Regions from separate parts of the Homo sapiens genome. Here region 2 is linked to region 1. The links come from fine-mapping of genetic effects on gene expression. A gene starts in region 1. The other region holds a variant in brackets. All regions are shown on one strand. Distances are from middle to middle. Region 1 holds the start of HK1 (hexokinase 1). Region 2 overlaps HK1 (hexokinase 1).

Region 1 (8,523 bases):
GTGCTGGGATTATAGGCATGAGCCACCACGCCCGGCCAGCAAATATTTTATGCTCCATGAGAACTGGGACCGTTTCTGCCTTGTTTATAGTTGTCACCCCAGCCTAGCACAGTCCTCTGCACATAATAAAAAAATCAAACATTTTTTAAAGAAATGATTGAGCTCCTGTGATCAGATTTGATCTTCAGGGTTTTCAAATCAATAAGCATACTTAGGGAGGCCAAGGCGGGAGGACTGCCTGAGCCCAGGAGTTCAAGACCAGCCTGGGCAATATGGTGAGACCCTGTCTCTATAAAAAAATAAAAACAAATCCATAAGCAGGTGCCAGCAGTCTGACCACAACTGATTCCTGGATGCAGAGGTATACAGCTCCCTGTCTTTATCCATGTCTTCCCTGGACCTTCTCAGGCATGCTCAGAGGTGATTCCAGTGGCTAAATCTGTCTGCCAGGAATCCCTGACTGCAGACACACACAGACAGTCCCAGTCATGCCAAATCAGTCTTGTAAGGGGAAAGCTGCCTATGTCTTCTCCGGAGAACAGTAGGAGCGTGGGAGCATGGCACAGCTTGGCCAGATGTGAAAGCACCTCACAGACACCCTGCCTGCCAGTTTATTCCTTCATGACATTCCCAAACTATCCAACCAGATAAAGTGATGGGGCTTCTCTTGGGAGAAACCCTAGGAGTATCTAAGGTAGGAAAGGCAGGGATTATAAAGTCAAGATTCACCAAGAAGCTCTCACTGAATATTTGTACAACATCAGAATTGAGAGGTTATGAGACACTTCTCATAATTTTCTTTCTTCTTTTTTTTTTTTTTTTTTTGAGACAGAGTCTCGCTCTATCATCCAGCCTGGAGTACGGTAACACAATCATAGCATCACAGCTCACTGTTTTGGGATCAATCTTTTGGGCTCAATGAGCCTCCTGAGTAGCTGTGACTACAGGTGTGTGCATGCCACCAAAGCAGGCTAAAAAAAATTTTTTTTTAAGATGAGGTTTAATTTTGTTGCCCAGGCTGACTTTTCATAATTTTTTCTTTTTTTTCTTTGCCACTGCAAGAACCCACAGATTTTTCATAATTTTCTTTTTTTTTTTTTTGAGACAGAGTTTCGCTCTGTTGCCCAGGCTGGAGTGCAGTGGCATGATCCTGGCTCATGCAACCTCCGCCTCCCCGGTTCAAGCAATTCTCCTGCCTCAGCCTCCCGAGTAGCTGGGACTTCAGGTGCATGCTACCACGTCCAGCTAATTTTTGTATTTTTAGTAGAGACGGGATTTCACCATATTGGTCAGGCTGGTCTTGAACTCCTGACTTCGTGATTCACCTGCCTCAGCCTCCCAAAGTGCTGGGATTACAGGCATGAGCCACTGTGCCCAGCCAGATTTTTCACAATTTTCTAACTATCACCTCTCTCACCCCTGAGCAATAATGAATGGGCATTTTTTTTTTTTTTTGAGACGGAGTTTCGCTCTCGTTGCCTAGGCTGGAGTGCAATGGCGTGATCTCGGCTCACCGCAACCTCTGCCTTCCAGGTTCAAGTGATTCTCCGGCCTCAGCCTCCCAAGTAGCTGGGATTACAGGCATGCGCCACCACACCCAGCTAATTTTGTATTTTTAGTAGAGACGGGGTTTCTCCATGTTGGTCAGGCTGGTCTCGAACTCCCGACCTCAGGTGATCCACCCGCCTCAGCCTCCCAAAGTGCTGAGATTACAGGTGTGAGCCACTACATCGGCCTTTTATTTATTTATTTATTTTTAATGCTTGCTTTTGCAGCTGGAACACATAGGCTCTAAGGAATGTACCTTGGGCAACCCTTTAATTGCTAAGCCTACTCTCCCCTGTCTTCCTGGGTCAAGTACTCAAGGACTCCTGAGTTCGGCCATTGGACAAATCACACTCTCTTCAACAGCACCCATTAACCAATTTATGCAGATGCCGTCTGGATAATGGGGTTCCAAACTGGGAAGTCAGACACCTGAACTGTTTCAACCCAGGATATATTTTTATGGAGTTGAATTATTGATGTGCCTCAAGGCAATGAGGAAAGAAATGACACCCTTTTCATGATCACCTACTAGTGGAAATCACTTAGCGTTATGGGGATCTCGCCCAGAGAAAATCCACTGGCATTTGCTCACCATTCTGACAAGCCTGGAGGAAAGGAAGTCTAATCTTTCTTTAGAAGCCAAGTTCTGACCTTCCTGGACCCATCTTCCCTTTCTAAACAAACAGAGCACTATGCAATCCTTCACCCTGCTCCAAGCTCCTAATGGCTAAACCGAGTGGAAGAAGCTGGCGAGATGAGATGCGTGTTTAAAGTTACTTAGAGGTCAAAGAACCCAGCCTCTAGCTGCAGAACTGGCAGATGTCTGGGATTCTGATGAATGGAATCCTTCACAAGCACACATATGCCTCCCTTTCCTCCTACAGGCACTAGAAGAGTGAAAGGAATATATGTGTTTTGTGCTTAGCTCAGCCTAATGCCAGTACACCCTCTTCAACAGCACCCATTAACCAATTTATGCAGATGCCGTCTGGATAATGGGGTTCCAAGCTGGGAAGTCAGACACCTGAACTGTTTCAACCCAGGATATATTTTTATGGAGTTGAATTATTGATGTGCCTCATAGGCAATGAAGAAAGAAATGACACCATTTTCATGATCACGTTTGGATTCTAAGCAATCCCAAAAACTTCCCCGGCATGGTCCCCAGCTTCCCTTCTCCTACCTCTGGCTCTGAGGGCAAGAAGATAGATGAGAGTTACTGAGGGATGCCAGGTCTGTCTCCAGAGCCCCGGAGGCTGCCTACAGCTGGAGGGCTGAATCATCATGGCTGCCCACGCTGGGGGGGAACCATCCTCAGCAGGTCCCTGCTGGGAGGCAGGCAGAGTCCAGCCCCACAGGAAGAACAGGGGGTCCCGCACCTTCACCTAGCCTTTCCTATGGTGAGTGGTACGTGGAAAGAGCTGGTCTCTAAGAAATCCTGGGCCCCAGAAGAGCAGATGTGGTCCCCAGCATCTGCACACTTGGGCAAAACTGAGTAGGTCACTGGAGCAAGTACCCACTATGTCACTGTCCTTAGAAGGCCCAGGCTGGAGTGCGGTGGCGCAATCATAGCCAGGACCACACCCACAGATGGCTGTGCCACACAGTCCACTATGCAAAATGAGTGGACCCCCTGGCAGGAATCCACGTACTCCCCTATAGAAAGCAGCATAGGAAGTCCGTGGTGAAATGCAAGCAAACATCTTGTTTTTAAGAATCTCCTTGACAAATAATATCTGGTGGAAACCTTGGCCTTAAGACCTTCCTCCAGCAAGGTTCTCGGGGAAGAGAAGGGAAGAACATCAGAATCCCAAACTCGGAGTGAGGAGGGATGGAAGGGTCAACTGAATCACACACTCAGGTACCTACGGGGGCCTAGGAGATAGACTGTGCATCCATAGATGTGAATTGAGCCACCCACAGGAGTGGAGAGCTCTGGGCCCACCCTAGACACTGTATGTCTGAGAAAACATGTCCCACTGAATGGAGTCCAAACCTCAGCCCAGCTCAGCTGCTGGAGGCCACCGGCAGCCAACAGCCAGCAGTCTGTTGTGGGTGGTGGTGGGTGTGGACACTGGAGGTTTACAAGGTCACCCAGGCACCCCCCAGCCCAGCAGCCCACTGTCTTGAGCTATAAAGGACACCACGTGCAGGAGGACAGTGAACTCTTGGCTTCAGGAGGCCTGTTCTGGGCACTTCTTGCCATGCCGGGAGAACTGTCTCCCTGGTCCAATGGGAAGAACATCAGTGATGCACAACACCACTAGAGAAAACTCATGAAATGCACACACCCGCACGCACAGCTCCCAGGTCAGTGGCCAGAGGGAAGCTCCAGGGTGCTCCATAGGAGCAAGTGTTTCGAGTGCCACGGTTTGACAACCCCAGAGTGCTTAAAGCCATAAAGAGCAATGGCAGATGGCATTCCCAAGCCTATCTCCTACCTACCTCACTCCCGGTCCCCACCCACCATGGGATCCAAGATCACGGCAGGGTCCCCAGCGGCTTTGTCTCTCAGTACCCACTCCCTCCTGGAAGCTGACCTCCAGGAGGACCCTGGTGAAGTTCCTGGGTGGAGGCACTGGGAGACCTGGATCCCCCTGACTGGCTCTGCCTCTAACTCACTGGGTGACCTTGATAAGGTCGCTGCCCTCAGTAGGCCTGTTTCCTATGGTGCCAGATGAGGGAGTCATCTTAGATGCACAGGAAGAGGATGGAACACCCTATGGCTTGCCGGGCAGAAAATCAAGGCCTGTCACTCCTGCCTTTCACCTGTAGAACTCCACCTGTCTGAACGCCAAAGTCAAGATGACTTTGCCAGTCCATCCCAGCTAACCCCAGCAATAACGTCACCACGTTCAGGGTGGGTGGGCCTGGAGCCTGTACCAGACCTGGCACTGATAAAACGGGCGTCTTTCCCTACAGCTTAGGCTGTTTCTTTAAAATATGGTAGCACAGCTGGCAGAAGAGACAAATACACCTTTAAGACCTGCCAGCGGACAGTATTTTACACTAAGATGTCAAAGGCAACAACACCTCAGGACAGGAGGATGCATGCGTCCAAGTGCTAGAACAAGCATGCCACAGGCGTCCACCCAACTCAAATGACCAGTCGCTTATTTGAGCTCCTGTGCTGGCTAGAAATTACAGCTTAAGAGGAATAAAAAATTCCATTCAGACGTGCCGCTCCAGACACGAGGCCTATGAGCAAAGTTTCCGGTGGCCTCGCCGCCCCTCCCCGTTCCGGGAAGCCGGGCGGGTCACCTCGTCCTCAGATTAACGAGCAGCTCAAACAACTGGGAGAGCCCGGCGACAGCTTCTCCGGGGCACCCGACACCCTCCGCCAGGAACCCCAAATATGGGAGGCCTGGCCTCCAGCCAGCACCCCCGCCTGCTGCTCGATCACCTCCCCAGCATCTCCATGATCACACCTCCTCCCACGGCGCTCGGACCCTCCCGAACAGGCCCTGCGGAAGGGCCCACCGGCCACCTCCCCGCACAGCCCGGGGGCCTATCTGACATCCAGGGCCCGTTTCAAGGACACTGCAGCAGGCAGCCCGGTCTCGGGGGTCTTCCGCCCGATTGCCCCCCTCCCAAAAACGCACACACACAGAGACACTGACAATGCCGGTAGAATCGAAGGCGAAGGCTTTCCTTGCGCCCTGCAGTCCAACTCGATGCTGGCCCGGAGAAGGCCGGGCGCCGGAGGATGGAGGCAGCGGAGGCGGCGAGCGGATGCCGGAACGCAAGGCTGCGGCCAGGACCAGCGGCGGCGCGGGCGGGGGCTCACCTTTTTGACCTGGTCATCCTTCAGCTCCGTGAAGTAATAGGCCAGGAGCTGCGCGGCGATCATGCTGGCGGTCGGGGTCGCGGGGCGGCAGGCGTGGGGACGGTCGGTCCTCCGCAGCCCTGGCGAGCCGTGGTCCTCCGGCGGCTGCTCGGCGGCTCCTCCTCCTCCTCCTCCCCCGGCTCCTCCCCCTCGGCCCGGGGCGCGGCGACAGCTCGCGCGCTCCCGGTCTCCGCGCTCCCGTCCCCTGGAGGGTGACAGCCGCCAGCCGACCCACCTCCTCCACGCCCATTGGTTGCGGCGCGCCTCTGCAACGCCCGGCGGTGGCGTCCCGGCCGGGGAGCGGGGACGCGGCGGCCGCTCCCTCCTGCGCCGGAAAGGGGGCGGGCGACGCAGCGAAATCCCCCCCGACCCCGCATCATCCTGCACGTCCCCCACGTAGGGAGCCGATGCGGGCCTTCACGCGTGGCGGCGCCGTGCCCGGGTGGGCCGTGCCAGGCGGGGAGGTGCGAGGCGCAGGCAGGAGGCACCGCCCGGCTCCGCCGGGACGAGAAGCCCCTAGGGCTAGTCTAGGGACTGGCAGCCCCGGGGGCACGAAGGCGGTCCCATTCCTCGGAAATGAGGGCTCGCCCCTAGGAGTCCGGTGGACGCCGAGGTGCCGGAGGGGACTTGCAGAAGTGGGCGTGGAAAGCGGGCGGAAGCGGGAGCCGGGGACGCTACGCAGTCCTCGCACCCGGGTCCCGCGCCTTCCTCACCCAGGCCGAACGCACCGGCCTACCTGGGTCTTCAGCGGCAGTGCATCACCTCTCCCCGGCGTGCCCCGCCTAATCTCCAGCTGGCAGATTTGTATTGCTGAACCCAAAGCGACACCCCAGAGCACCCGCCCCCGAGTCACCAGCTCCGGTGGCTCTCCCTCAGGGCGCACTCCCTCTGGGCGGGACTTGGGCCACAGGTCGTGGCCTGTCCCCATCCTCTGGGCCTCCTCTTGCTCTTGGGCATCCAGGCCCACTGGGACTTGGGGCACGGTTCAGCGCCCCTTCCCAGGTGCCGTGTTTTCTACTTTCCCAGAGGAAGTTACGTAGGATGGGAGGACTCCCTAGAGGTGCTACCAGGACAGCCACTTTAGGATTCTTAGATTAATTATTTCTGTGTTCCGGAAGCCTCCAGGAGCTTTAGTGCCTTACAAAATGACATGTAATGAGCTCAAATATACAAACAAGTTGTTGCTATTCTGGTTAGACAGGTAAGGAAATTGAAGCTCAGTGAGGCCTCAGTCTTGCTGGACTTTATACAGCCAGGAAGTTGTAGATCTAGGATCACAGCTTGGATCTGTGAGTCTTTGAAGCAGGTGCTCACCTCTAGGGTTTGCTGTGGTCCCAGTTGTATAGAGCCCCTCTGCCTAAATAGGTCACTTTCCTGCAACCAAGTCTGCACCATATGGTGCCCTGAGATCCAACCCCCAACCTCTACCCTAGCTCTTGACTTTAGGAGTCCCTAGCCCTTGACCAGGCCTAGCAAAGGTACAGTCAAATCAGAGGGAGGGATGACGTAGGTTCAGGGGCCTGACAGCCACCATCACCCACAGAAAAGGAGGAGCTTAGATGCAGTCCTGAGGCCCCAGCTTCCTGTCCAGGTCACAGTCCCCACCCCCTGCCTTAGGGCCTATGCAGAGGGGCATCTTGAATCACCTCTGAGACTGTGTCTTCATCCATAAGATGAAGACACTAATGCCCACCTCACCTCCCCTTGATTGTTGTGTAATACTGTACGCAAAATACGTGCACATAATACACACTTAAGGAATGGCAGGTATCATAGAACTGACTGAAAAGTTAATGCGGTTAAAGCTTCAGGGACTCTCACTTTCATTCCTACCCTTCTAGGCCCTGGGAGGGCCTAGCAGTGTGATATTTGTATATTTATATTTGAATTATTTTCCATAGAGAGTGCCAATTTATTTAATTTTCAAGCCCAACAAAACCTGGATTTGCCCTGGATCATAATTATAAACCAGGAAGAGAGAGATTTTCTGGTACACATCAAACATTTGGAACTACCTACATGGCCGTTAAGCAAAATGGAGTGAATGAGAACAAGATGGTTGTTCTCAACTGCCATTTCATTTGAGTTCTGCAGATCTGCCAAGCTCACAGGGCTGGAAACTCCTTGAGGATGGAGGACTATGTTTTGCTAATTGCTCTGTCTCCTACACAAGCGCAGGGCCTGGCACTTGGCAGGCTGAATAAGCCTAATGCATAATCAAAAACATGGCCCTTAACCCAGCCACCAGCCGGTGCCATCACCCATGCCCAACCCGTTGTTACAACTCCTATCTGAGCTGGAGCCAGGGAGAAGCTGACGCTTGGAAGAGCCAGGTTACCCTGAAATGTCCTGTTTGCAGGCAGGAAAGCTGCCTCTGCTTTGTCTTCCCTGGCCTTTGAGAGGGAAACTGCTTCTCAAGGTGACTCATTCCTCCCCACTCCATGAATGCAACCAGGCCCCAAGGCCTGTCAATATTTCCTGAGAAATGTCTCTAGGCCTGACCTATTGCCACCTCCCAACTCCCAGTCCATCTCCCTGTGCCAGAAATATTACAAGAGTCTTCTAACTGTCCTCCTCGGCTCCTGGCCTCATGCCATCCAAGTCATTCTGAGCACCAGGTCACATTAATCCTGCTAAAATGCAGCATAATCATGTCATGACCCTTCCCTAAATCCCTTCATGGCCCTCTCCTTCCTGAGAGAGCCAATTTAAACATCTCTGCCTGGTTTCCGAGGCCTTCTGTAATCGACTCCACTCTTTCCCACTTATCTCTTCCTCCACTCTGGCCGCAACAAGGCCACTTCCCACCATCCTCTGCCCCCACCATGTCCACTCCATTTGTTCGCCGCTCATATTCCCTTCCTTGCCCTGCCTTCTCCACTCACCTCTGCCTGACCAAGCATCCCCTCTCATCTAAGGCCCAGCTTGCCAACCTTCCCTGGACCACAGCTACTCACCCCAATCTCCCAGGCCTCAGCACCTCGACAGGGCAAACTCAGGCTGTGCTCACAGTCCATCTGGATATACACCCAGACTCCTCTTTACAGGGCAGGAACCTGGGATGCCACAGGTGGGCCATCTTGCCCAGTGTCAGGTTGTGGTAGAGTTTTGAGCCAGGACTCCAGCCTAGTCCTGATGCCCAGCCAGTG
Region 2 (8,000 bases), 21 kb before region 1:
GCTCAGCCAGGTGCAGGGGCTGATACCACTCCTCTGGGGAGGAGAAACAGACAATCCTCAGGGGGCCCTCCCCCAACGCCCCACTGCAGGGTATGAGCCACAGGATGCAGAGTGAAAGGATACAATTTTTCTTTCAATTCTACCTCCCCTCTGTATTTCTTTGTTTTGGGGGCTGCCTCAATTCTGCATCTGTGAAATCTGTCCAAAGGGGGTCTGGAATCTCTGCCTTTAAGTCTGAGACCCACCTGTCCATTAGGATTGCTATTATCTGGGATAAGAAGAGAGGGAAGCTTTGATTCCCTGATGGAGAGATTTCCCTAAAATGAACCCTTCATTTGTTCTGGAGTTCTTCATGTTCTGAAGACATAAGAGCAACCCACACAGTATCTGCGAGACCCATAAACACTACACTTTCTAAAGTATCACAAGCCACTAGACAGTAAAGTCAATGACAGCAGGTCAGCCTTGCCCAACCATGGTATCCCCAGTGACTGGCATAAGGTCTCAGTAGACACATATTGGATGGATGGATCAGCGGATGGATGGATGGATGGATGGATCAGCAGATGGATCAGCGGATGGATGGATGGATGGATGGGAGAGCAGATTGATGGAATGGTGAATGAATGAATGAGCAAATGTATGAACAAATGAAGTTAGAAGGAAGATTTCACAGAACATTTAGCCCTCAGGGTTCAATCTCTGGGTGACAGACTTACCAGAGCCATCAGGAATGGACCTTACGAATGTTGGCAACATCTTGACTGTGGCTGTTGGATTAAAATCCCGGGAGAGGCCATTCTTCATCTCCTTCCTGAAGCGAGTCATGATATCTATGAGAGTTTCATCGGAGAGCCGCATGGCATAGAGATACTTGTCAATCTGGAGGGGGATGAGAAGGAAGGAGAGTGAGGTCGAGGGGGAGGACAGGGCAAGGTGAGGCACCCACCCGCTGAGATAGCCAGCTCCCACAGGCACAGGAACACGCACGCTGGCACATCGCATGGCGGAAGGTCATTCAACTGCTGTCATCCATGTCACCCAGAACAGGCTTGCAAATGCTCTGAGCCCTAGTTCCTGGCCTGTAAAATGAACCCGATATCTCTAAGATCCTTTCCAACCCTCAAATATGACATGGAAGCTGCTCTTCAACCCCCAAGTACTTGATGGAGGTAGGTTTCCTCCAGTATCAGGAACACCTCAAGCCTCCTTCTCTCTCTGAGAATTGGCTGGCTCACTCTCACTGGGATGGGAATGACAGAGAGGCTACGAACAAGGGCTCTGGAGCCAGCCAACTGGGTTCAATCCTAGCCCCAGAGCTTAACAGCTGTGTGAATTTCAGTTTCCTCAACTGAAAAACTGAGATGATAGATAGGACCTAACATATAGGACAAGTTCAAATGAGACACAAGCACTTAGAACACAGTAACTGCTCAATAAACATCAGCTATTATTATTAACATGAGACAGTAGTACTGGCAGGTGTCCATGGGCAAGACTTCTAGAAAGACAGAAATGGCGGCCAAAGGGCTAGGACCCTTCTGAGAACACAGGGTGGCAGGCCCAGAGCACAGAAACCTTAAACCCAGCCTCAATGAATGGAGACAGCCCCTGGGCTCCCATACCCATGTGCCGGGCCTGTGTGCCAGGCCATGGGCCCTGCACCTCCGAGTCAAACTACTCCCACCCTTCACCAGGCCTGACCCAACCTGCTCCTCTTCCTGAGTTCCCCGTTCTCCTCAAGCTGCCCAGGCTCCTAACCTTAGGCACCCTGGGTTGTCACTGGCTATCACTAATTGTTTGTCCTTCATGGCATCTTCGCATTTATTCTCCCAAAAAAGGATTCACTGGGCACCAGCTAGGTGCCTAGAATTGAGCTAGACACCTGTCCTGATGGCACTATCCCTGTAGAGTCCACCGAGGAAGGTTCTTTTGTTTCACCATCCACTCTTTCTGCTGCTCTGTGTGCCTGGATTGCTGATGATCCACTGTAACAGTTTATCTTCAATCTCTTCCTTCCAACCCATCTTCTACACCACTGCAGCATCAGCCTCTTAAAGTGCAACCCTAATCAAGTCATGCCTCTGCCCAAAGCCTTGCAATGCCTCCCCACTGCCAAGGCACCTACCCTCTGCAGGTGTGGCTCTGTGCTCTCTGAACTCCGGCCAAACCACCTCTACCATTCCTAGTAGGTGCTCCAGGCTCTCCTCCTTCTGCTGTCACCTCTACCTGAAATGCCCTTCCTTTTCTTCCCAGCTCACCTAACCTTCAAGGTTCAAATCAACTGTCACTTCCTCCTGAAGATGTCCAAGTCCTTCAGGCTGGATATCACCACTCCTTCAGCACTGACCCCTAGGCAGGGTCTGGTCTGGATCCCAGCTTTCCATGCGTGTCACCCTGACCTCCCCAGTGCCTCACATGGAGCCTTGCACACAGAAGGCTCCCACTGGATAGAGAGACAGATTTACAGCCCCACAAGGCTGAAAAGACCTTAACACTGGTGTTTTTTCCTTTGTTTGTTTGTTTGTTTGTTTGTTTGTTTGTTTTTGGGGTTGGTTTTTTTTTCATAGTCTATCTCTGTCACCCAGGCTGGAATGCAGTGGCAGAATCTTGGCTCACTGCAACCTCCACCTCCCAGGTTCAAGCAATTCTCCTGCCTCAGCCTCCTGAGTGGCTGGGATTACAGGCGTGCGCCACCACGCCCTGCTAATTTTTGTATTTTTAGTAGAGACAGGGTTTCACCATGTTGGCCAGGCTGGTCTCAAACTCCTGACCTCAAGTGATCCACCCACCTAGGCCTCCCAAAATGTCTGCCAACACTCTCTGCGCCCAAGGATGATCCTTGCCCCCACTCCTAACCACTAGCCCTACCACCTTTTTCCCTTTACAATAAAGCAGCTCAAAGAAGGGCAATCAGGAACCACCAAGAGCCAGAATAGAAATTGCCAGAAGAGGCCAGGCATGGTGGCTGACACCTGTAATTCTAGAACTTTGCAAGGCCAAGGCAGCAGGATCATTTGAGCCCAGGAGTTCGAGATTAGCCTGGGCAACAACCCTGTCTCTACAAAAAATAAAAATTAGCCCAGCATGGTGATGCACACCTGTAGTCTCAGCTACTCGGGAGGCTGAGGCAAGAGGATCACTTGGGCCCAAGAGGTTGAGGCTGCATTGAGCCATGATTGAACCACTGTACTCCAGCCTAAGTGACAGAGTGAGACTGTCTCTAAAAAAAAAAAAAATTAACAATTGGCCAGGAGCAGTGGCCCACACCTGTAATCCCAACACTTTGGGAGGCTAAGGCAGGCAGATTGCTTGGGGCCAGGAGTTCGAGAGCAGCCTGGGAAACTTGGCAAAACCTCGTCTCTAAAAAAATACAAAAATTAGCCAGGCGTGGTGATACGCCCCTGTAGTCCCAGCTACTCGGGAGACTGAGGCGGGAGGATTGCCTGAGCTGGGGAAGCAGAGGTTGCAGGGTGCTATGATCCTGCCACTGTACCCCAGCCTGGGTGACAGACTTAGATCCAGTCTCCAAAAAAAAAAGAAAGAAAGAAATATGTATATATAT[T/AT]TTTTAAAGGAAATAAAATTGCCAAAAACATGGCCCTGGGAGGAGAGACAAGCCATGCCCTATTCTGGCTGGTGGCATTCATCAGCAGCCCTTGCCATCATAGTGCCCTGGGTCTGCAGGGAGAGACAGCCACGTTGCAAGCATGGGAGAGAAGGCTTCCTGGAGAGGCGAAGTTGGAGAGCATGCCCAGGCACAAGCAAGGGCATGTGTGAAGTCCGAAGGGGAGGGAGGGTGGTTTTTGTGATGAACAAGCAGACGGTGTGCCTGGAAAGACTGTCCAGAGCTCAACCACACAGGGCCTGATGAGCCACATAAACAAATACAAGCGGGATCCCACAGCACAGCGAGCCTTGGGACGGCTTTACTGATTACAACCATGATGAGAGTTGTGTGTCTGCTGCGTGGAGAATGGAGGAGCAAGCGCAAGATCATACAATAAAAGCTACATTGCTAGCTGGCACAGTGGCTCATGCCTGTAATCCTGGCACTTTGGGAGGCCGAGGCAGGAGGATTGCTTAGGCCCAAAAGTTCAAGACCAGCCTGAGCAACATAGTGATATCGCACCTCTAAAATATTTTTTAATTTTAATTTTAAGGCCGGGAGCAATGGCTCATGCCTGTAACCCCAGAACTTTGAGAGGCCGAGGCGAGTGGATTACCTGAGGTCAGGAGTTCAAGACCAGCCTGGCCAACATGGTAAAACCCGGTCTCTACTAAAAATACAAAAATTAGCTGGGCATGGTGGTGCATGCCTGTAATCCCAGCTACTCAGGAGACTGAGATATGAGAATCGCGTGAACCCAGGAGGTAGAGAAGATTGCAGTCAGCCAAGATCGCGCCATCGCACTCCAGCCTGGGCAATGCAGCAAGACTCCATCTCAAAAAATTTTTTTTAATTTTAATTTTAAAAAAGGTACATTGCTACTCCAGCATTTTGGACACGCCCCAACGACCACACTCCTCACACATCATGATTATCCTTTTACCAAGCTGTCCATCTCCTATGATACTGCGTGAGTTCCCCAGGGAAAGAAAACATATTGAATAGACCTTTGGAACTCACCCAGTTGCTTGACACAAAGGAGGAATTCAAACAATGCTGGATCCTGGAATAATACTATATAATTCTCTTGTGGCTTACAGTATATCAGTATATCAAGATCCAGTATGTCATTTAACCTTCAAAACTGTCTGGGAGATGTTCTTAATCCCCATTTTACAGACACAGAAACTGATGGTCCAAGAAGCTAAGTGATTAGTTCAAAGCACACAGCTGGGGGAGTGAGGTTTTATACCTGCAAGTCTAAGGCTCCTCCATACAATCATCCCTGCCCCTTAAGAAAGACTGGTCCCCTGCTCTGCAGAAGGCAGATCCAAGTAGAGCTGTTGGGGTTTTCCCGCTGGACAGGAGAAGCTTCTAGAAAAGGCAGCTCTCCATAACTCCACAGCTATCCTGCCTTCTAAGTCAAGGTGCAGCTCAGCACACAGACATTGATCCAAAAACCCCAACGTTTCAGGACAACCAAGCTAAATCCAAATAAAGCTTAGAAGCTCAAATCAAAAAGCAGGCTGCAGACACAGAGAACGGCCTGGTCCTCAAGCTGCTATGGAGGGAGGGTTTTCCTCCTTTTGTTCAGGTTCATGAGTCGTCATGAGGTACAACCCCTCTCAGAAGAGACATGAATACTGGGGCCAAAAGGGAGGCCCAATTGAGGCAAGGCCGGAACTGAAACTGGGGCCTCCTGGATTTTACATGAATGAGGACAATGAAGGGAAGCCCTTTCTTTCCACTGGTCCTCGGGAGATCAGAAGGGGCCACTGAACCAGCAAATACCCTAGGCCTGGGGCTGGGCTGCCAGGGGAGAAGTCAGCTCCCTGGTATCTGCCACACTGCCCAGCCAGGCAGGCACCTGGTGCAGGACTCAGCAGACATGCCCCTCTGGACTGTGGGCCTTTAAGTGGCCCGGAGGCACTGGAGAAAAGCACATGACTAGAGACACCTGCAGAAAACTTCCAGGGGCCCAGAGAACCCAGCACTTCACTGAGCAAAACGCATCTTCCTCGTTCAGACCAGCCCCTCCTGGCACTCCACTGGACCACGCCTGTCTCCCTGGGAAAGAGGCTGGGAATGGGCAGTGGGTTGAAGGAGAGAGGGAGGAAGAAAGGGCATTGGAGAAATCTCTCCTGCCCAGTTGCTCCAGATCTCTGCCAGAAACCCAGGAAGAAAGGCTGACTCTTGGTCTTTGGGGATTTGGCCAAAGTCTGGCCTTTCAACTTTTCTATTTCTGTCCTCCTCTCCACAGCATCTCCAGATCTTTACTCTCCTCCTTCCTTTTCCCCTCTTCCCTCTCTCTCTACACACACACACTCTCACATACACAATCTCTCACACACACACACTCTCACACACTCACACATACACACACAAGTACTTACACACACACACACACACACACACACACACTCACATCTCCATAATCCTGTCCCCTTCTCTTAGGTGCTGCCTCCACATCACCGCTGCTTTACTGCTCCAGCCAAACATCAGTGCCCGAAGAATCCCTCCCCACACTCCATTTGGGAGTTGGGGAGGACACCGCACAGCACCACTTCCAGCTGCTTCCACTGCAAGCCTCGGTCTGTGGACCATCTATCAGAAGACAGAGGTTCCCAGGAGTCATGACAGAAACCCAGGCCCTCAAATGCTCCCTCTCAAACCAGTGTCTGAGACGAATATGTGGGACTCTGGTCAGTCTGGTCAGGCTGGGATGGAAATGGGAAGGCGCCCAGTCCCAGACACCAGACATCAGACACCGAGCTGGGTCCCTCAGACTCTTGCCTGAGAACCCGCATCCAGCCTCCAGGGCCTCTGTCCACCGCTGCCCAGAGTGAAGAGCCCTTCCTATGAGGGTAGCCAGACCGGCTGCACAGGGCGGGCGCTCTTGCTCAAACACTTTCCAGACACTTGTCCTGGATTCTCCTTCTTGTGGACCAAGGGGGCCTTGAAGCTCTCAGCGGCTCCCAAAGTTGGACCCCCGCAGAGCAGGAGGACATGTCATCAGCAGAGAACACACAGCCTCGCCAAGCTTCCCTGGCTCAGAGCCCTCCAACCAAGGAAAGAACTCAATGGCCTAGCACTGCAATCAACTCACAAACATTTCTGTGCCCGACCCCAGCCCCACCTCCTGCTCCCAACAGAACATGCACAAAAAACAAACGCAAGATTGGACATGCCCAAGTGAACAGGCCGGTCGCAGCAGGAGGCACCAGTAACCACTGGTAACCATCCCAGCCATTTTCACCCCACCCCGTGGAAGGGTGCACAGCCATGGAAAATTTCACTCCCTCTCTCATCCACCCTCCCGTGAGGATCGAGAATGCTGCAGAACAGCAGGCGTGACTGAAGCTGCTGACGCAGGCCTTTAAAATGAACTTTCCAAGCAAGGCGCTCCACTTACAAAAGGAAATTGTGGCGTGCACCCTGAAGGGTTAAGAAAGATGTTAGCTTAGGGGAGGACAGAGATTTCAACATCAGAATTCACTTCCCTTTGCTAAGGACACTGACTCAGAGAGAACGGGTCCTGGGTGCTTATTAACATCACAATTAGCAATGGCTCACATGTGCACTGGCCCTTCAGATACAGGACCTTCACATACATTATCCCATTTGAACTGTGTAGAAAGAAGTGAAATGAGCTTGTGGATGCCAAGTGCCACGCAGGAAGCAGGTGCTTTAATGCTAGTTCCCTTTCTCCTGTCACTGCAGCCCAGTGAAGTAGGCAGGAAAGACATCATTATCTCCATTATCTAGGAGAGGAAACAGACCCATGATTCAAGCTAAGTTGGGGAGTTTAGAAATGGCAGCTGGGTCTAGATTCCAGGGCTCGTAACCTCCCATTTGGGGCTTCACCTTAAGCATTTCCATTTTCCTCACATGGTGGAAAGTACACAGGGCTGTGGACAGAGAGCTGGGTTCAAATCCGATTTATTAGCTGTGTGACTTTGGACAAGTTACTTAATCTCTCTGAGTCTCACTTTTAAGATGGAGATAATAAATCCTCCACTTCAGAGGGTTATGGGGAGGATTTTAATGTGCAGAAACAAAGTAAGCATCAAGTGTCATTTCCCTCCCTCCCATCCCTAAGTGACATAATCATGTACCCCTAACTCCTTTCATCTCAATGCCTGAAAAATACATCTACCGGCCAGGCACGGTGGCTCACGCTTGTAATCCCAGCACTATGGGAGGCCGAGGCGGGTGGATCACTTGAGAGGTCAGGAGTTCAAGACCAGCCTGGCCAACATGGTGAAACCCCAACTCTACTAAAAATACAAAAAAAATTAGCCGGGTGTGGTGGCAGATGCCTGTAATCCCAGCTACTTGGGAAGCTGAGGCAGGAGAATCACTTGAACCCAGGAGGCAGAGGTTGCAGTGAGCT

The links. PIP is the estimated chance that this variant, and not a neighbour inherited with it, causes the effect. A credible set is the group of variants that fine-mapping cannot tell apart.
Region 2: its variant is the best candidate, but not a certain one, in a credible set for the expression of HK1 in monocytes (Fairfax 2014, PIP 0.54).

The regions. Positions count from the first base shown.
Region 1 is chr10:69,315,823-69,324,345 of GRCh38, reverse strand. It overlaps HK1 (hexokinase 1), which reads right to left and starts at 5,499. Exons shown (of 18, transcript NM_000188.3): 1 at 5,336-5,499. The coding sequence starts at 5,398. RefSeq lists enhancers at 2,414-3,330, 4,916-4,965, 6,256-6,485 and a silencer at 5,266-5,945.
Region 2 is chr10:69,336,709-69,344,708 of GRCh38, reverse strand. HK1 (hexokinase 1) reads right to left here. Exons shown (of 18, transcript NM_000188.3): 2 at 720-882. Among named protein-coding and RNA genes, the nearest start is that of HK1, 22 kb to the right of the region's middle. RefSeq lists enhancers at 439-1,292, 4,881-5,566, 6,255-6,940, 6,941-7,628. The variant T/AT (reference allele first, on the strand shown) is at 3,566.